2 separate regions of the Homo sapiens genome follow, and region 2 is linked to region 1. The links come from fine-mapping of genetic effects on gene expression. Tissue or cell type: blood mononuclear cells. Region 1 holds a variant in brackets; the other region holds the start of a gene. All regions are shown on one strand. Distances are from middle to middle.

Region 1 (10,624 bases):
GAAGTCCTCAGAGCACAATTTTAGTTCCAAACTAAAAATGTAAGTGACATCTTCTTTGGTTTCTTCCAGCGTCAACATGTGGTAGATCTAATTTGAAATGAGTTCCAGAGCTGAGGCAAGGCTATGATAGAACACAAGGCAAACAGCTGAAAACTGTAGTCAAAAGGCAGGGAAGCTGAGAAAGTGATTCAAAGAAGCCCATCTGAAATCGGAAGCAACAGGGACGCTTTTAGGGAGGTGAGTGAGAGGGATGCCCGCCTCCACCATCTCCTGGGTAAATAATCTCCCTGCTGTCCAGGACCTGCAGCTGATCCACCCCCAGGCACCTGCTTCATCCTACTGGCTTTATAATTTCCAGTCTCTTTCCATTGCCTCGGCGCATACTCAGCCAAGCCCTGAGCCTGTGTCATTCACCAGCAAATACTTACTGAGCACGTAGCAAAAGCCAGGAACTGTTCTAGGTGGTTGGGATACATCTATAATCAAAACGGACCAATTCCCTGTCCTCATAGGGCATACATTCTAGAGGAGGGAGACAGACACTACACAATAAATGGGATAAATGAGTAAATTAGGTAGCATTCCAGAATTAATGAGTGCTATAGAAAAAGAACAAGGAGAGCTGGGTAAAGGGGATCAGGAGTGTGGGTGTGGGTGGTGGCAATTTTTAAAAGGGTGGTCATTGAGAGCATGTGAGCAAAGCCTTGCCAGGAGTGAGAGAACTGGCCATGTGGATATTATGGGGTTGGGTGAAAGTGCTTTCCTCTAGGCAGAGGAAACAAAGGTTGAAACGAAGCAAGAGTCTGGCTGGCTTGTTTGAGGAGGACTCAAGCCTGGAGCTGGGCAAGTGAATAGAAGGTAAGGTCAGGGAAGTAAATGGGCTGGGGACAGGGAGAGGGGCAGATCAGGTATGTCAGGTTGGCCACTCTCAGACTTCAGCTTTTGCTCTAGTGACATTCAGATGCAGGGCAGGGTTTTGGGCAGCAGTAATCTCACATTATTTCCGCCCCCTCCAAGATGGAGTCTCGCTCTGTCACCCAGGCTGGAGTGCAGTGGCGTAATCTCAGCTCACTGCAACCTCTACCTACTGGGTTCAAGTGATTCTCCCGCCTCAGCCTCCCCAGTAGCTGGGACTACAGGCGCGCGCCAACACGCGCGGCCAATTTCTGTATTTTTAGTTGAGACGAGGTTTTGCCGTGTTGGCCAGGCTGGTCTCGAACTCCTGACTTCAGGTGATCTGCCCACCTTGGCCTCCCAAAGTGCTGGGATTACAGGCATGAGCCACTGCGCCCGGACAGTCATCTTACATTTTAAAATAATCTCTCTAGCTGGTATGTTGAGAACTGAGTATAGGGGAGTGAAGGCAGAAGCTGACTGGTTATAAGGCAAAAATCTTGGAGTCATCCTTAATTTCCTCCACCTCTCATAGCTCTTGACTCTACCCAAACACCCAGGTCCTGGGAGCTTCAGGACCTCTCCAGCTCCCTGGACCCTGGTTGCTGGCAGAGCGAGTAGCTCAGCACCCGAATGCCTGGGACTAGAGCCCCCGCGATGAGATGTGCAGGACCCGACCACTTCTCATCCCCTCCACTGCTAGCACCCATCTAAGCAATCCGAGAGTTTTCACCTGAGTGACTGGAAGGAAGGAGCTGCCATTCACTGAGACGTGGAAGGCCATGAAGGGAGCAAGGTTTTGTGTTTTGTTTTGTTGTTGTTGTTGTTTTTAATAGAGAGGGGGTTTCGCCATGTTGGCCAGGCTGGTCTCAAACTCCTGGTCTCAAGTGATCTGCCTGCCTCGGCCTCCCAAAGTGCTGGGATTACAGGCATAAGCCACTGTGCCTAGCCCCAGAGGAGCAGGTTTTGAAGGGAAAGTAAGGAGGTGAATTTTGGGAAAGTTGAGTTGAGGTATCTATCAGATGTCCATGTGGAAATGGCAACTGGGCAATAGAATGTGAGTTTGGGGTTTGTGAGAGAGATCTGGCTGGAGGTGTGTATTTGGGGATCATTAGCATTTTGATGGTATAAGAAAAGAAAGTAAGGACCTTTAGTGGGTCTGGGAGAAGATGGGAAACCAGCAGAGGAGACAGAAAATGAGAAACTGGTAAAGCAGGATGAAAACCAAGAGAATGAAGTGTTTTGGAAAGTCGAGTGAAGAAATTCTATCAGGGAGGAGGGAGAAATTAACTGCAGCAAAGGCTGCAGATAGGTTAAGAAGATGAGGAAAGGAAATTGATTGTTGGTTTTAGCAGCTGGGAAGTCATTGATGATAAGAGCGGTTACAGTGGAGGGCTGGGGACAATGACTGATTGAAATGGATTTAAGATAATGGGGGAGATGGGAGAAAGGAATTGGAAATAGTAAATGTGGGTTATTGGGGCAAAATGTGGGAGTAGGTAAAATCCACCCCTTCCTTGTGTATTTCCCTTCTGGGCGGAAGGGGGCCATGTGAGTCCTGCGTAGCAGTGACAGTGTGCCAGTGGCCAGACTCCTCGGGGGTGGGGCCCTGAGCTGGCGAGGCGGCTGAAGAAGCTTGACATTTGAACTATTCCTCCAGCCCTCCACCCTCAGCTGCCAGGAGGGAAAGCAAATACGATTTTCTACTAGGGCCTGCCCAGTTAAAGTTCCAGTCATGGGACGAGGAGATGCTGGATAACGCAGGAGGCGTGATGTGGGAAGAAGGTAGCGGGAGAGGGTTCTGGTCATAGGACTGTCCATAGCCAGCGGGGAATTTAAATCACCTTCCTGCCTATCTCAGCCCAGATGAAAAAACCGTCTGCCAACATTTTCACTTAATTTCTAAGTCCAGGTTGCTGAAATTTCACTCGGGGCAGAAGTTACCCGTGCCAAGAACCTTTTAAGTTTTCCACTAGTCTCAGGACACCAGCTGGAGACCATCTTTTGCGAGGACTTCCTCCCTGTCCCCTCCAACTCCTCTTCAGAGCCTCAGTCTTCCCATACCTAGGTCCTGGGTGCTTCAGAACACGGGCCTTCAGCTGAGACCTCTCCAACTGCCTGGACCCTGGCTGCTGGCAGACCAAGTTGCTCAACACCCAGAATTAACTTGGGACTGGAGTCCCCATGTGAGGCCACGACAGGAGGCACACAGCAGGACCTCTCAGAAGGGCCTGGAGGGGAAAGATCCCTCAGCTCCAGCCTGTAAAGAAGGTGCACTGGGATGCCCACACAAAGAGGATTCCCTTGGCAGCAAGGAAAACCATTAGCCCTGTGCTGTTTATAGATAGCAGAGAATAAAGAGAAATAAGAAGCACTGTTCGTGTGTTCATATAAAAGTAATGGTTAATTTAGCAGTGAGTGACAGTGTGTTACCAAGTGTAGTTAATGACTCAGGGCCCACTGTTGGTCAGGCTCATGCCGAGGACAGCACATAACTCCTCATGGAAGCTCCTCGCTCTTCTGTTGCTCAAGTGGAAGATCGTCAGTTTATGCCGTAAGAAATTGGCTGGAACGTTACAAGTGACACCACAGAGCGTGCTCCTTTTGAGAAGGGGGGCCAAGAGAGTGATTGCTTTCTGGGACGGGGATATGGTCTCTCCTATCTCACGGAGAAAATGCCAGCACATTTTAGAATTTTTGAGGAGACTAGTATGGATGATATGGGGGTGCAGGTTACTGTGAACTCCACCCCCCATCCCCAGGACTAACTTCATCTTTTGATGGTGGTACCTGCGGAGGGGAAGAGGCAGAATGCCCTTCAGCACTCCTCAGTCCGTACCTGGCCCCCTTGGCTCCCTCCCACCCCGACCCCTCTCACACTTCTAGGGCCTGTAGCCCCTCCTTGCAGGTGTGGACTTTGTCCCTCTTGGCAGGCTGCCAAGGAGCTCAACGAGGCAGAGGAAGGAGGTGGGAGCAGCTGACCACGGGGCCCAGAGTTAAACATTGGCTTGGTTTATAGAGAAAGAGCAGGAAGCATGAATATGGGAAGGGGCTTGGGCTGGGCCCATAGCTGTTTCTTTCTGGACTGGGCTCTCCACAGTGACTGTTCCTGTCAGCTGCTGGGTTCTATCTTTCCTGTTTTCCTTCCTGCTCAGCAAACCTTGGGTTGATTTATGGACTTCTTTGGCTGAATTGTTTGCTACCTTTCCTTCTTTGTCCTCATGATCAAGTCCCCCTTAGTGCCTGAATTATGGATGTGTAGAATACAACCTTGAGAAGTGGGAGGTGAAGAACTGGAGAACTGGGTTCCTCATTAACTTACAATAAACCACACATAGTTAAAGTGTACAATTTGATAAATTTTGACATATGTATATACGCATGAAACCACTGCCACAATTGAGATAGTAAACATGTCCATCACTTCCAAAACAGTTACTCCTGTCTCTTTCTAATTCCTTCCTCCCAACTTCACTCCTGCCATCACATCCCAGTGCAATCAATAATTATGCTAAATGCAAACTAAACTAGTTTGTTTTTCTTAGAATATTATATAGATGGAATCATACAGTGTGTTGATAATTATGAAAATTGTGATACCACCATACCTTAGTTTGCGTTTCTTAGAATATTATATAAATGGAATCATATGGTATGTTGATAATTATGATACAGCATAATTATTTAGGGTTTCATTTATAGTTTTCATGTATCAGTAGTTTATCCTTTGTTATCGAGGTATCTTCATATATTCTAACACACAAGTCCTTTATCAGAAATGCATTTTACAAATACTATTTTTTTCATTCTGTGTTTTGTAATTTTCCTTTTCTTTTTTTTGAGATGGGATCTCACTCTGTCACCCAGGCCGAAGTGCAATGGTGCAGTGCAATGGTGCAGTCACGGCTCACTGCATCCTTGACCTTCTGAGCTCAAATGATCTTCCCACCACAGCCTCCCAAAAGTAGCTGCGACTATAGGCATGTGCCACCATGCCCGGAAAATTAAAAACTTTTTTTTTTTTTGGTAGAGACGAGGTCTCACTATGTTGCCTAGGCTGATCTCAAACTCCTGGGCTCAAGCGATCCTCCAGCCTTGGCCTCCCAAAGTGCTGGGATTACAGGCGTGAGCCACTGCACCTGGACTGTTTTTCCTGTTTCTAACAGTGTCTTTAGAAGAGAAGGCGTTTTAAATTTTTATGATGTCTGGTTTATAAATTATTTATTTTATAAACCATACTTTTGATATCATATAAAGAGATCTTTGCCTAACCCAAGGCCTCATATTTTCTTCTAGAAGATGTAT[A/C]GTTTTAGGTTTGACATTTAGCTCTATGTTTCATTTTGGCTTAATTTTTGTATACAGTGAAGATATGGGTTGAAGTTCATTTCTGGGGGGTTGTATGGGTATTCACTTATGCCAGCACCATTTGTTGAAAAGACTATCCTATTTCCAATGAATTGCCTTTATACCTTCATCAAAAATGAGTTATTTGTATATATGTGGGTCTGTTGATGAATTCTACTCTGTTCCATTGATCTGTTTATTTTGACACCAGTACCACACTGTGTTCATTACTGTGCTTGAGGATAATATAAATACCAGGTGGAATTAAGTACTTCAGTTCTTCTTTTTCAAAGGTTTTTTTTTTTTGTTTTTTTTTGAGACAGAGTCTTGCTCTGTTGCCCAGGCTGGAGTGCAGTGGCGCGATCTCAGCTCATTGCAAGCTCCGCCTCCCGGGTTCACGCAATTCTCCTGCCTCAGCCTCGCGAGTAGCTGGGACTACAGGTGCCCACCACCATGCCCGGCTAATTTTTTGTATTTTTAGTAGAGACAGGGTTTCACCGTGTTGGCCAGGATGGTCTCGATCTCCTGACCTCGTGATCCACCCACCTTGGCCTCCCAGAATGCTCCCAAAATGCCTCCCAAAAAGAAATGAGCCACTGCGCCAGGCCCTGTTTTTAGGTTTTTTTTTTTTTTTTTTTGGGGGGCTATTTTGGGTCCTTATCATTTCCAGATGAATTTTAGAAAGAATTTGTGAATTTCTACAAAAAAGTCTGTTGTGCTTTTGATTAGGATTGTATTAAATCTATAGATCAATTTGGAAAGAATTGACATTTTAATGATATTAAGTCTTCTGATCCTGAATATGGTATGACTCTCCATTTATTTAGCTCTTCATTAATTTCTCTCAGCAATGTTTTGTAGTTGTGAGTGTACATATATCTTTCACAACTTTTGTCAGATTTATTCCTAAGTATTTAATATTTTTGATGCTATTGTAAATGGTATTATTTCCTACATTTTAATTTATGGTTGTTTATTCCTAATACATACACAATTGATTTGTGTATGCCCATCCTGTATCCTGCAAACTTGCTAAACTCACTGATTGGTTCTAATAGGTTTTTTTTTGTGTGCATTCCAAAGGATTTTCATTGTAGAATATCATGTCTTCTGAGAATAAAGCAGTGTTATTTTTTCCTTTTAAATCGGAATAACCTTTAATTCCTTATCTTGCCTTATTGGCTAGATTCTATGGCTAGAATCCCCAGTACAGTATTGAATAGAAGTAGTAAGAATAGACACTTGTTTTATTCTCAATCTTAGCAGTCTTTTACAATTAAGTATGATGTTAGCTGTAGGGTTTTTTTGTAGATGCCCTCTATCAAGTTGAGGAAGTTCTCTTCTCCTCATCATTGCTGGGAGTTTTTATTAGGAATGACTGTTGGATTCAGTCAAATACTTTACTGTACCTATGAAATGATCATATAGTTTTTCTTTTGTAATTTGTTAACAGGATGAGTCACATTATTTATTTATCCATTTATTATAACAGCTGGAGACTACAACACTATGTTGATTTTTTAAAATGTTAAACCCACTTTGTATCTCTGGGATAAACATTACTATATAATATATTGTCCTATTAACATATTGTTAGATTTGATTTCCTAAAATCATTTAGAATTTTGGCATTTATGTTCATGAAATATGTTGATCTTTAACTTTCTTTTCTTATAATGTATTTGTCTGCTTTTATTATCAGGGTAATGCTCACTTTATAAAATTGGTTGGGTAAGCATTCCATCTTTTCAATTTTTTGGAAGAGTTTGTGTAGAATTGCTGTTATTTCTTCCTTAAATATTTGGAGGATTCACCACTGAAGTCATTTGAGCCTGGAAATTTTTGTGGGATGGGTTTAAACCAAAAATGAATTTTCCTTAATAGTTATAGGGCTATTCAGACTGTTTCTTTTTGAGTGGGCTTTGGTAGTTACGTTTTTTATTTTACCTAAATTGTTGCACTTACTGGCATAAAGTTCTTCATATCTTTTCTTATTATTGTTTTAATATCTATAGAATCTTTACTGAGGATACATCTCATTTGTCATGCTGATAATTTGTGTCTTCTAAAATTTTATCAATTTTATTATCTCAAAGAACCAGCTTTTGGTTCATGGATTTTCTCTGTTGCTTTCCTGTTTTCCATTTTATTGATTTCCACTCTGATTTTTATTTCCTTTGACTTACTTTGGCTTTCATTTGCTCTTATCCTTCTCATTTCTTTCTTTCTTTTTTTCTTAACTACACCCTCATTTCAGCAATAATTTCTGATTTCTTAAGGTGGAAGCCGAGGTAATTGATTTGAAACTTTTCTTCTTTTATCATTTAGTAAATCTCCTAGGTACTGCTTTAGCAGTATGCCACAAATTATGATACTGGGTTTCATTTCATTCCATTCAAGATACTTTCTAATTTCTCTTTTGATTACTTCAGTAGAGCCATAGGCTATTTAGAAATGTGTTACCTAATTTCCAAATAGGTGGCAATTTTCCAAATGTCTTTCTCTGATAGATTTCTAATTTAGTCAGAGAACCAATTTTGTATTACTTGGATGCTTTTAAACTTACTGAGATTTGATCTCTGGTCCAGGATATGGGCCCATCTTGGTGGAATATTCCATGTTCATTTGAAACTAATGCATATTCTGCTGTTGGACTGTTGGGTAGAATGTTCAATAAATGTCAACTAAGTTGAGCTGGTGGATATAATTTTCAAATCTGTTATATCCATACTGATTTTCTGTATACTTATTCTATAAATTATTGAGAGAGGGCTATTAACGTTTTTAACATTTATCAGGAATTAGTTTATATGTTTCTCTTTGTAGTTCTGTCAGTTTTTGCTTCGTGCATTTTGAAGCTCTGTCATTAGGTGAATATGCACTTGAAATACTGATTGATTAATTGACCCTCTTGATTAATTGACCCTTTAATCATTATGAAATTACCTTCTTTACCCTTGGTAATATTCTTTGCTCTGAAGTTTACTTTGTGTGACATTAAGATAAACTTTACAGATTTATTTTGAGTAGTGTTAGCATGGTATATCTTTTTTTTTTTTTTTTTTTTTCCGAGACGGAGTCTTGCTGTCGCCTAGGCTGGAGTGCAGTGGTGCAACCTCGGCTCACTGCATGCTCCGCCCCCCGGGGTTCACTCCATTTCTCCTGCCTCAGCCTCCCAGCATGGTATATCTTTCTATCCTTTTACTTTTAACCTCTTCATGTCTTTTTTATTCAAAGTGCATTTTCTTAAGGCAGCATATAGTTGAGTCTTGTCAGGTTTTAAAAGCCAGTCTAACAATCTCTGCCTTTTATTTGGGACGTTTAGACCATTTGCATTTAATACGATTATCCATGTAATTAGGTTTAACTCTATCATCCTATTATTTGTTTTCTCTTTGTCCTATCAGTTATTTGTTTCCCCCTTCCCTCTCCTCCTGCTTTTTTTTTGGAATAATTGAATATTTTTTCTTATTCCATTGTTAGCTTTCTTCTTTTTGTTGGCTTATTAGCTGTAACTTTGTTGTGTTATTTTACTGATTGTTTTAAACTTTGTAGTATACATCTTTAACTTATCACACTTTATCTTCAAGTGATAATGTACCACTTTATATATAAGAACCTTAAAATATTACAATTTCATTTCTTTCCTCCTAACCTTTGTGCTCTTCTTATACATTTTTATATGTTATAAAATCAATATTACATTGTTTTTATTTTTGTTTAACCAGTCAATTATCTTTTAAAAAATATTTGAATAATAAGAAAAACATTCTCTATGTTTATCTATGTAATTACTATTTCTAAAGCTTTTTATTACTTTGTATAGATTCATATTTCTATCTGGTGATATCATTTCATTCTCCCTGAAGGAGTTTCTTCCACATTTCTGGTAGTTCAGTTCTACTTGTGGTAGATCCTTTCAGGTTTTGCATGTCTTAAGAAACAGTTATTTCACTTTCCTTTTTGAACAGTATTATTGCTGGGTATAGAATTCCGGGTTGACAGCTTTCTCCCTCCTCCTTTATTGCTTCAGCAAATGTGCTTCCTTATCACTGTCTTCTCTTTTGCATTGTTTTAAATGAGAAATTTGATGTTATTCTTATCTTTGTCTGTACATATGTGTCGTTTTTCTCTGGTGACTTTTAAGGTTTTCTCTTAAAAGCTCCATATTCCGGTTTAAGTAATGTGATTATGATGCACCTTGGACTAGTTTTTTTTCATTTTTTTTTTAATCTTGGTGTTTGTTGAACTTTTTGGATCTATAGGTTTATAGTTTTCATAAAATTTGTAAAATTTTCAGCTATTATTTCTGTAAGCTTTTTCTCACCCTTTTCTTTCTTTCACAGACTCCCATTACATTAGGCTTTTTGAAGCTGTCTCACCACTTAGGCATACCTGTTCTTTTTAAAAAATTTCTTTTTTCTTTTCTTTCTTTCTTTTCTTTCTTTCTTTTTTTTTTTTTTTGAGATGGAGTCTCACTCTGTCACCCAGGCTGGAGTGCAGTGGTATGATCTCAGCTCACTGCAACCTCCACCTCCCAGGTTCAAGTGATTCTCCTGCCTCAGCCTCCCAAGTAGCTGGAATTACAGGCATGCACCACCACACCCAGCTAATTTTTGTACTTTTAGTAGAGACAGGGTTTCACCATGTTGGCTGGGCTGGTCTTGAACTCCTGACCTCAGGTGATCCACCTGCCTCGGCTTCCCAAAATGCGGGGATTACAGGCATGAACTACCATGCCCAGCAAAAATGTTCTTTTTTCTCTCTGTGTTTTATTTTAGATAGTTTCTATTATGGTTCAAGGTCACTGATCTTTTCTTCTGCTCTGCCTACTAACATTAATCCCATCCAATGTATTTCTTTAAATCTCACACACTGTAGTGTTCATGTTCAGAAGTTTTATTTGGGTCTTTTTCAATATCTTTTATATCCCTAACTTTTGGAACACTTGCAATACAGTTATAATAACTTTTAAATATTCTCATCTGCTAATTCTAACATCTTTGTAAATTATGGGTCAGGTTCAATCTCCTTGCTATGAGTAACATTTTCCTGATTCTTTGCTTTCCTGGTAATTTTCGATTGAATACCAGACCTGGTAATATTTTTGCTTTATGGGTTGCTGGATAATTTATTTATTTATTTATTTATTTTTGAGACAGAGTCTCACTCTGTTGCCAGGCTGGAGTGCAGTGGAGCGATCTCGGTTCACTGCAACCTCCATCTCCCGGGTTCAAGCAATTCTCCTGGTTCAGCCTCCCAAGTAGCTGGGACCACAGGCACATGCCACCATGCCCAGCTAATTTTTGTATTTTATTTATTTATTTATTTATTTATTTTTACTTTTATTTTTTGAGATGGAGTCTTGCTCTGTCACCCAGGCTGG
Region 2 (10,624 bases), 150 kb before region 1:
AGAATCTGACAACTACTTATCACCTATGCCCTCATTGCCCTGGTCCAGTCCACTGTTTTTGCTTTTGTTGTTTTAGATACAGGGTCTTGCTTTGCTGCCTAGGCTTGTCTCAAACTCCTGGCTTCACTCAATCCTCTCCCCTCAGCCACACAAGTAATAGGATTATAGGCATGAGTCACTGCGCTTGGCTTCCAACCCACTGCTATCTGTTGCCCAGATGACGACAACGGTCTCTTAACTGGTCTCCTCGTTCCACTTTTGTGTGTGTGAGACAAAGTCTTGCTGTGTCATCCAAGCTGGAGTGCGATGGCGCAATCTCGGCTCACTGCAACCTCTGCCTCCAGGATTCAAGTGATTCTCCTGTCTCAGCCTCCCGAGTGGCTGGGAAGACAGGCACATACCACCAAGCCTGGCTAATTTTTGTATTTTTAGTAGAGACGGGGTTTCACCATGTTGGCCAGGCTGGTCTTGAACTCCTGACCTCAGGTGATCCACCTGCCTTGGCCTCCCAAAGTGCTGGGATTACAGGCATGAGTCACCACGCCTGGTCCCCCTGTTCCATTTTCAACCTCATCCCTTATAATGTATTCTCAACACATTAATATATATGTGTCAAAACACAAAACTCCTCTGCCCAAAAGCCTCCAATGACTTTTCATCTTACTCAGAGGGTCAAGGTCTTTAAAATTGCCGACAAGGTCCTGTATGATCTGGCCAACCTCATTACTTCTGTGACCTCACCTACTACTCTTATCCTTGTTCACTGCGGTAAAAACACCGGCCTCTTGGCTGTTCTTCAAACGTGCCAGGCACACTTCTACTTCAGAGTCCCCGTACCTACAGTTCTCTTTGCTATGATGTTCTTTCCCCATTTATCTATGTGGCTTACTCCCTCTCCTCCTTCAGGGCTAAAATGTCACTTTCTTGATGAAGTCTTCCCTGACCACTCTACCAACCTCATCCCTCTTCTCTGTTTTACTTTTCTCCATTAACACTTACAACCTTGGCTAGTTGAAGTGGCTCACGCCTGTAATCTCAGCACTTTGGGAGGCCAAGGCGGATAGACTGCTTGAGTCCAGGAGTTTGAGACCAGCCTGGGCAACATGGCAAAACCCTGTCTCTACAAAAAATTAGCCAGATGTGGTGGCACATGTCTGTAGTCCTAGTTAAACAGGAGGCCGAGGTAGGAGGATCGCCTGCACCGGGGGATCAAGGCTGCAGTGAGCCATGATCACGCCATTGCAGTCCAGCTGGGGTGACAGAGTGAGACCCTCTCTTAAAAAAAAAAAAAAAAAAAAGTTGAACACTTATAACCATCTAATATTTAATGTCTGTCTCTCCACACTGGAATATGCAAACTCACTAAAGGCAGCGGGTTTTTATCTATTATGTTCACTGCTGTATCCCTAGTAACATAAACAGTGCCTGGCTCATACTAAGTGTATATGTATATATATACAACTCTCAATATGAATTTGAAAGACTGTTAAACATCCTTTTCTTCTGCTGGCCAGTCTATTCAATCTAGATTTAAAAATCTGTTTCTGCTTCTCTCATCCCATTTGTTTTCTTCTACAGCCAACCCTTCAAATACGCCATCTTTCTTCTAATTCTCTCCTTTAAAAGACTACTCTCCTCCTCCAAACTCACCTCCTTCCAAAATACGTCTCCAAATTGGGTCAATGTGCCTCTTGTCCAAATAACCTAGAAAATAAAGTTATTGGATTGGCATGGAAGGATTATGGGTAACATTTTTTTAAAAAAGCAGCTTTATGGAATGTAATTTGTGTACACCATTAAACTCATTCAAAGTGTAAATTCAATGATTTTTAGTATATTCACAGATACGTGTACCTATCAGCACAGTCCATTCTAGAAGTTTCGTCACTTCAAGAAAAAAACCCTGTGTCCTTCAGCTATTATCCCTGTCTCCCAGTCCTAAGCAACCACTAACCTACTGTCTCTACAGATTTCCCTATTCTGGACTTTCCTATAAATGGAATCACATAGTATATGGTCTTTTGTGACTGTCTTGTTTCACTTAGCATAATGTTTTCAAGGTTCACCTATGTGGTACCATGTATCAGTACTTCATTCCTTTTTGTGGCTGAATAAAATTCCATTGTACGGATATGGGTGACAACTTAAAGTTAAATTTCACTGTTTCAAAGCCATTTAAGAGTAATTTGAAGCGGCTGGGCACAGTGGCTCCTGCCTGTAATCCCAGCACTTTGGGAGGCCGAGGAAGGCGGATCACCTGAGGTCAGGAATTCAAGACCAGCCTGACCAACCTGGAGAAACCCCATCTCTACTAAAAATACAAAGTTAGCTGGGCATGGTGGTGCATCCCTATAATCCCACCTACTCAGGAGACTGAGGCAGGAGAATTGCTTGAACCTGGGAGGCGGAGGTTGTGGTGAGCCAAGATCGCGCCATTACACTCCAGCCTGGGCAACAAGAGCGAAACTCCGTCTCAAAAAAAAAAAAAAAAAAGTAATTTGAAGCTTTGAAAGACCCTTCTAACAACCTGCAATCCCTCTTCTCCTTCATAGTGACTGTCCTCACTGTTGCACATGTCTACGAAAAGTTGTCTACACTCACCTCTCTGGCTGCAAGACGGGGCCTTGCTATGTTGCCCAGGCTGGCCTTGAACTCCCGGACTCAAACAATCCTCCTCCCTTGGCCTTCCAAAGTGCTGAGATTACAGGCATGAGCCACTGAGCCAGGCCTCGGGCTTCTACTATGACATCTAACCAAGCTCTTATTGGTCAGCAGACATCCAAATTAATAAATTCAATTGCTCTTTTCTGTTTCTATCCTCCTCCATCCAATAGTTACTCCTTCACTTGTATTCTTAATTAGATAGTGCCAACTACCTATTTATTTATTTATTTTTTGAGACAGAGTCTCACTCTGTTCAGCCCAGGCTGGAGTGCAGTGGCACGATCTTGGCTCACTGCAACCTCCACCTCCTGGGTTCAAGTGATTCTCCTGCCTCAGCCTCCCCAGTGGCTGGGATTACAGGCACCTGCCACTGTGGCTAATTTTTTTTGTATTTTTAGTAAAGACAGGGTTTCGCCATGTTGGCCAGGCTGGTCTCGAACTCCTGACCTCAGATGATCCACCCACCTCTGCCTGCCAGTGTTGGGATTACAGGCGTGAGCCACTGTGCCTGGTAGTGCCAACTACCCTTTAAAAATATATCACTTTGGGACCGGACCTTGGCATGGCCAGGCCATGGCAAGACCCTGTCTTTACCAAAATTTTAAAAATTAGCTGGGCACAGTGGCAATGTAGTCCCACCTGCTTGGTGCGAGGATCACTTCAGCCTGAGGGTTCAAGGCTGCAGCGAGCAGTGATCGTGCCACTGCACTCTAGCCTGGACAACAGCGCAAGACCCTGTCTCAAAAAACAATTAAAATAGGCTGGGCACAGTGGCTCATGCCTGTAATGCCAGCACTTTGGGAGGCCAAGGTGAATGGACTGCTGGAGGTCAGGAGTTTGAGACCAGCCTGGGCAACATGGTGAAACCCTGTCTCTACAAAAATTACAGAATTAGCTGGGAGTGGTGGCACGTGCCTGTAGTCCCAGCTATTCAGGAGGCTGAGGCAGAGGATTGCTTGAGCTTGGGAGGCAGAGGCTGCACTGAGCTGAGATTGCCCCACTGCTCTCCAGCCTAGGTGACAGAGTGAGACCTTACCTGGAAAAAATAATAATAAAAATAAATATTGCTTTGTAGTTGAGAATGTGGGCTCTGATATCAGACTTGGGTTTGAGTCAAAGCCCTGCCTCTTATTAGCTGTGTACCTCAGGCAAGTTATCCTCTCTAAATTTCAGTTACTTCTATGTCATAGGTTGGTGTACGGATATAAGGCCGAGGGACAGTGTTTGACACATATATAAGCACTCAGTAAATGTGGACTATTATTATTATTGACAATTTTACTCCCTTGGCTCAGAGGTTCTGTCTTCAAGTTTCTTTATCATTTCCTCTAACCATTTCTTTGGGAACATCATTATTCCTCCTGTTTTTATTATTAACTCTGTCATCTAAAACACTACATGGCATACAGTAAGTAACAATTACATGTTGAATAAATAAACGACATCTCTTTCAACCTCTTGATTTGAATTAACAAAAATGTAGTGGACATTTTCACCCATAGTCCCACTGGCACTTGAAACGTTTAACTTAAAAAAGAAATCACTCAAGTTAGGTATTTTTTTAGCATCTCAAAGCTAACATTTCCTAAACCTAACACATCATCTTTTTATCCAAACATGCCCCTTCTGACTTTCCTATTTTAGTTACTAATTCAGCGTTTCCAAGCAACCGGGAGTTGGCAACTTAAATTCATCATTTGATCACTCATTCTTCTGAACCTCCTGTCTAACCATATGAATATCTTGTATATTTTATCTCCACAATGACCATGTTAATTCAGAGTCTCAATACTTCTTACCCACACCATTACAACACCTTAACGGTTCTACCTACTCCTTGCGTCTCCTGGACCATTTTCTTTAATAAAATACATCAGTAGCACCTCATAGCCTAAAGCATTAAATCCAATTTGTTAGCCTAGAATTCATGGCTTTCTACATAAGGGCCAAACCTAACTTTCCTGCCTTATTTCTCTCTACTCTCCTAAATGTACCGTTTCCAGATAACTTTCCTGCCTCCATACCTTTGTTCATGAGCTTCCCTCTAGCTGGAACACAACTCCCTCCACAACCCTCATAATTTCACTTAACAAAATCTAGTCTGTACATGAAAACTCATCTTAAATACCACCTCCTTTTTCTCTTTCCTGAGTCTCCCCATCCAAAATGATTTAGCAAAAATGATCTAAGTGCAAAAGAACTGCCTTTGAAATTATCTACAAGTCAACATATTAGAGTGCTTTATTGCTATCGTTTCTCCCATGCTAGCGTGCGCTCCCTACAGACAGAAATCGCGTCTTACTCTTCATTGCCTCTTCCAAAGGAACAATGCCTTTGTTTATAGGTAAATTAACGGGTTTCAGCTAGGGTCTCTGCACCTATCTCCAATACCCTTGCTTAGATATATTCTTATAGCTTGTCTACTAACAATTAACATTTGTGTAGCACTTTGAATTTTTTTCTTTTAGCCACGTGACAAATCTGTACAATTTATTATCCCAACAACCGTTCAGTATTTTCACTATCCCTTATTTCACAAATGAGGAAACTGAGAGCTAGACCAGCGTGGGGTTAGAGTACACCGGAACGCATCTCCAGGGCGCCCGAATCCCGTACTCCTTTTCCCACTTCATCCCATTCTCGACCGCCTCACTGCTCCAGGTCCCAACGCTCCAGCACTCCTGAGGTCTCTCCCTTTGCACATTGGAGCTTTCCTCCTCCGGTCCCCAGCCCCTCCACGGACACCACATTCAGGCTCACGTCCTCTCCTCCGCACTGCTTCCGCAGTTACTTCTCCCTAACCAGATTTTCTTCCCAAGGCTTCTTACCTAACCCCTTCACCCCAAACCCGAAACTCTATACTCACGACACACTAAGACTCCGAGTCAGGGAACGCAACTGAAAAACAAAAGTCAAACCAAGGAGCGGCGCGGCGCCACTGAGCGTCCCTGAATCCGTGCAATCGCGAAGAAGTTTACATGGCCCTTTGGAATGCGCACCAATGGGAAGGGCCTTCACACAGAGGCCCGCCCCCATCTCGCCCCTCCTCGCGGTGCTCCCGACCGCGCAGAGGTCTCTGGGAAATGTAGTTTTCTTCTGCCTGGAGCTCTGCGCGGGGCGACGCAGCTGGGCTGCAACCCGCTCCTCCAGGGACGGGTAGTGTGACGTTTGGGGTCAGAACGCACCACTTTCGGGCACCCCCACTTAAGATTGCTCAACTGCTTTGAGCTCAGGTACTTCGCGTTCATGGTACATATATGTTGTAATTTCCAAGCTTGTCTCAAGAGATAAAGATTCTAAGAAAAGTTTCTTCTTCCATGACCGGGTGGCCTAGAGCCAGGATAGGACCTGAGGTTCAGTTTCTACGGTCAGGGGACTATGTATTAAAATTCTACTATTTGTTCCATAGCAAACACTGCTTCCTTTTCCGGAGAAATGTAAGACACTGGGCTTTAATGATAAAAGCAAGTTCAAAATCCATTATGGTCTTATCTTTCCAGAAAGCAAGGTGTAAAGGTGGGGGAAAAGCACTTTCGTCTCAGAATTACAGCTACTGGTATGGAAAAGCTGGGGCCCTTCGCTGGTGTGAGTCCTAAGGATGTCTAAATGGAACGTGCATCTGCTACAGGCTCGCACTTTCCTTTATTGCGCTTCCCAGGTAACTGTTTTTACAAATGTAAGGTTTGTGGCAACTCTGCATGGAACCAAATCTATCTGCGCCATTTTTCCTACAGCACAGGCTTACTATGTGTCTCTGCACCACATTTGGTAATTTTCACAATATTTCAAACTTTTTCATAATTATTGTATATGTTATGCTGATCTGTTATCCTTTATATTACTATTATAATTGTTTAGGGGCACCATGAACCATGCCCATATAAGATGGCAAACTTAATTCATAAATGTTGTGGATGTTTTAACTGCTCCACAGACCAGCAGTCTCCCTGCCTTTCTCCCTCTCTTCTTGCCTCCTTATTCCTGTGATACAACAATATTGAAATTAGACCAATTAACAATCCTACAGTGGGGGTTCAAGTGAAAGGAAGAGTCACACATCTCTTACTTTAAATAAAAAGCTGAAAATGATTAAGCTCAGTGAAAAAGGCATGTTGAAAGCCAAGACAGGATGAAAGCCAGTCTTCTTGCACCAAAGTTAGCCAAGTTGTGCATGCAAAGGAAAAGTTTTTGAAGGAAATTAAAAGTGCTACTCCAGTAAACACAAAAATGATAAGAAAGTGAAACAGACATTGCTGATATAGAGAAAGTTTGAGTGGTCTGGATAGAAGATCAAACCAGCCACAGCATTCCCTGAAGCCAAAGCCTAATCTGGAGCAAAGTCCTAACTCTTCAATAAAATGAAGGCTGAGACAGGTGAGGAAGCTGCAGAAGAAAAGGTGGAAGATAGCGGAGGCTGGTTCGTGAGGTTTAAGGAAAGGAGCTATTTCCGTTACTTAAAAGTGCAAGGTGGAAGCAGCAAGTGCTGATGTAGATGCCGCAGCAAGTTATTCAGAAGAGCTAACTAAGGTAATTGATTAAGGTGGCTAAACTAAACTACAGACTTTTGATATATATGAACCAGCCTTTTATTGGAAGGAGATGCCAAGTAGTACTTTTGTAGCTAGAGAGAAGTCAATACCTGGCTTCACAGCTTCTAAGAACAGACTGACTCTCATGTTAGGGGCTAATGCAACTGGTGACTTTAAGTTGAAGCCAGTGCCCATTTACATCCCTGAAATCCTAGAGCCCTTAAGAATTATGTTAGATATAGTCTGCCTGTGCTCTATAAATGGAACAACAAAACCTGGATGACAGCATATATGTTTATAGCATGGTTAACTGAGTATTTTAAGTTCACCGTTTTATGTATGTTTTATTTTAAGTCCTACTGCTCAGGAAAAAAAGGATTTCTTTCAAAATATTACTTCTCACTCACAATGCAACTGGTCACCCAAGAGCTCTGGTGGAGGTATGCAAACAGATGAATGTTGCTTTCATGCTTGCAAACACAACAGACATTCTGCAGCTCATGGATCAAGGAGTCATTTTGACTTTCAGGTCTTATTAAGAAATATATTTCAGGCCGGGCACGGTGGCTCACATCTGTAATCCCAGCACTTTGGGAGGCTGAGGTGGGCGGATCACCAGGTCAGGAGATCGAGACCAGCCTGGCCAACATGGAGAAACCCCCGTTTCTACTAGAAATACAAAATTAGCTGGCCATGATGGCGCATGCCTGTAATCCCAGCTACTCAGGAGGCTGAGGCAGGAGAATCACTTGAACCTGGGAGGCGGAGGTTTCAGTGAACTGAGATCGTGCCATTGCACTCCAGCTTGGGCAACAAGAGTGAAACTCCGCCTCAAAAAAAAAAAAATATTTCATAAGGCTATAGCTGCCAGACATAGTGATTTCTCTGGTGGATCTGGGCAAAGTAAATCGAAAACCTTCTGGAAAGGACTCACCACCATTCTAGATGTCCTTAAGATCATTTGTGACTTGGCTTGGTGAGATGTCTCACACCTGTAAACCCAGCACTTTGGAAGGCCAACGTGGGTGGATCACTTAAGCTCAGGAGTGCATGACAAGCCTGGGCAACATAGAAAACCTTGTCTCTATAAAAAAATACAAAAACTAGCCAGGAGTGGTGGCATGCACCTGGCTACTTGGGAGGCTGAGGTGGGAGGATTGCTTGAGCCTGGGAGACCAAGGTTGCAGTGAGCCGAGATTGTGCCACTGCAGTCCAGCCTGAGTGACAGAGCAAGACTGTGTCTCAAAAAAAAAAAAGTAAAAATATATTTAATAAAAAAATTTTAAAAAGAACATTTGTGACTTATGGGAGGAGGTCAATATCAATAATAACAGGAGTTTGGAAGAAGTTAATTCCAATCCTCTTGGATGTCTTTGAGGGGGTTCAAGACTTCATGGACGAAATAACTGCAGATGCTGTGGAAGTAGCAAGAGAACTAGAATTAGAAGTGGAGCCTTGGGAGGCTGAGGCAGGAGAATCGCTTGAACCCGGGAGGCAGAGGTTGCAGTGAGCCCAGATCGCGCCACTGCAGTCCAGCCTGGGCAACAGAGCAAGATTCTGTCTCAAAAAAAAAAAAAAGTGGAACCTGAAGATGTGACTGAATTGCTGCAATCTCATGATGAAACTATGGATGAAGAGTTGCTTCTTATGAATAAGTAAAGAAAGTGGTTTCTTTAGCTGGAATCTACTCCTGGTGAAGATGCTGTGAACATTGCCAAAATGACAACAAAGGGTTTAGAATATTCCATAAACTTAGTCGATAAAGCAGTTGCAGGGTTTGAGGATTGACTTCAACTTTGAAAGAAGTTCTACTATGGGTAAAATGCTATCAAACAGCATTGCATGCTACAGAGAAATCTTTCATGAAAGGAAGAATCAATCAATATCATGAAAGGAAGAATGAAAACAACTTCATTGTTGTCTTATTTTAAGAAATTGCCACAGCCACCCCAGCCTTTAGCAATCAGCACCATGATCAGTCAGCAGCCCCCAACATCAAGGCTAGACCCTCCATCAGTGAAAATATTATGACTTGGCTTAGACGATCATTAGCATTTTTAGAATAAAGTATTTTAAGGCCAGTCGCGGTGGCTCACGCCTGTAATCCCAGCACTGCAGGAGGCTGAGACGGGCGGATCACGAGGTCAGGAGATGGAGACCATCCTGGCTAAGACAGTGAAACCCCATCTCTACTAAAAATACAAAAAATTAGCCGGGCGTGGTGGCGGGCGCCTGTAGTCCCAGCTGCTCGGGAGGCTGAGGCAGGAGAATCACTTGAACCCAGGAGGCAGAGGCTGCAGTGAGCTGAGATCGCGCCACTGCACTCCAGCCTGGGTGACAGAGCAAGACTCTGTCTCAAAAAAAAAAAGCATTTTAAATTAAGGCATGTAAATTTTTTTAAAGAAATAATGCAAACTAGAAATAATGCACTAGACTACAGTATCGTGTAAACACATAGCTTTTTTTATGTACCAGGAAACCGAAAATTTCGAGCAATTTGCTTTATGGTGATATTCACTTTATTATGGTGGTCTGGAACTGAACCTGCAATATCTCCAAGTTATGCCTGTACTCCCAAACCTGCTTTTTTCTCCCTTGTGATTTTCTCTGTTAATTACATTAATATCTTCCCAAACATCTCGGCTCGGTATCTTTTGTCTATTTCCTTTCTTTTAGCCCCTGCAATTTTTAAAAAATCAAGTCATGGTGAGCCTGTCTTCATATATATCTTCCTATTTATTTCCACTATGTGTCTTATTACCTTTCACTTGGTCTATTACCATAGGCTTCTAACTGGGTGTTCTTGCCTCCAATCCATTCTATAAAAGGTGATTTTTGTCCAGGCTGGTCTTGAACTCCTGACCTCGTGATCCACCCGCCTCAGCCTCCCAAAGTGGTGGGATTACAGGCATGAGCCCCATCTCTAGTAAAAATACAAAAATTAGCTGGGTGTGGTTACATGTGGCACATGCCTGTAATCCCAGCTACTCAGGAGGCTGAGGCAGGCGAATTGCTTGAACTCAGGAAGTGGAGGTTGCAGTGAGCTGAGATCACGCTGTTGCACTCCAGCCTGGGTGACAGAGCGAGACTCTGTCTCCAAAAAATTCAATTCCGGGTCTGTCACACTCCTGCTTATAAACTTTGATGACTCCCCACAGACTAGAGAATGAAGTTCAGACAGTAGTATGGCATTCAAAGACTGCAGCTATCTGACCCCATTTGTCTCTATTAGAAGAAATTGATGTGGTCATCTCCTGAACACAGGACGCACTTTCCAGCTTCAGTTCACACTCTTCCTTTTATCTGGATTGGCCCTTTCAGTGCATCTTCACTCAAAATTCTTACGAGAGCCAACTCAAATACTACCACTTTTGTAAAATCTTGACTTATCTCCCTAATTGGAAATACAGTTGTCCCTTGCTCAGTATCTG

The links. PIP is the estimated chance that this variant, and not a neighbour inherited with it, causes the effect.
Region 2: CCDC77 starts here. The variant in region 1 is fine-mapped to the expression of CCDC77 in blood mononuclear cells (TOPMed, PIP 0.97).

The regions. Positions count from the first base shown.
Region 1 is chr12:246,086-256,709 of GRCh38, reverse strand. The region is part of intron 2 of SLC6A13 (solute carrier family 6 member 13); the gene reads left to right. LOC102723544 (a long non-coding RNA gene) reads left to right here. Exons shown (of 3, transcript NR_120482.1): 2 at 70-237; 3 at 2,963-3,268. Among named protein-coding and RNA genes, the nearest start is that of SLC6A13, 11 kb to the left of the region's middle. The variant A/C (reference allele first, on the strand shown) is at 5,200.
Region 2 is chr12:396,591-407,214 of GRCh38, reverse strand. It overlaps CCDC77 (coiled-coil domain containing 77), which reads right to left and starts at 5,571. Exons shown (of 13, transcript NM_032358.4): 1 at 5,531-5,571; 2 at 1,651-1,704. LOC105369594 (a long non-coding RNA gene) reads left to right here and starts at 5,805. Exons shown (of 4, transcript XR_007063149.1): 1 at 5,805-5,897; 2 at 6,165-6,322. RefSeq lists enhancers at 78-372, 4,761-5,313, 5,728-6,047.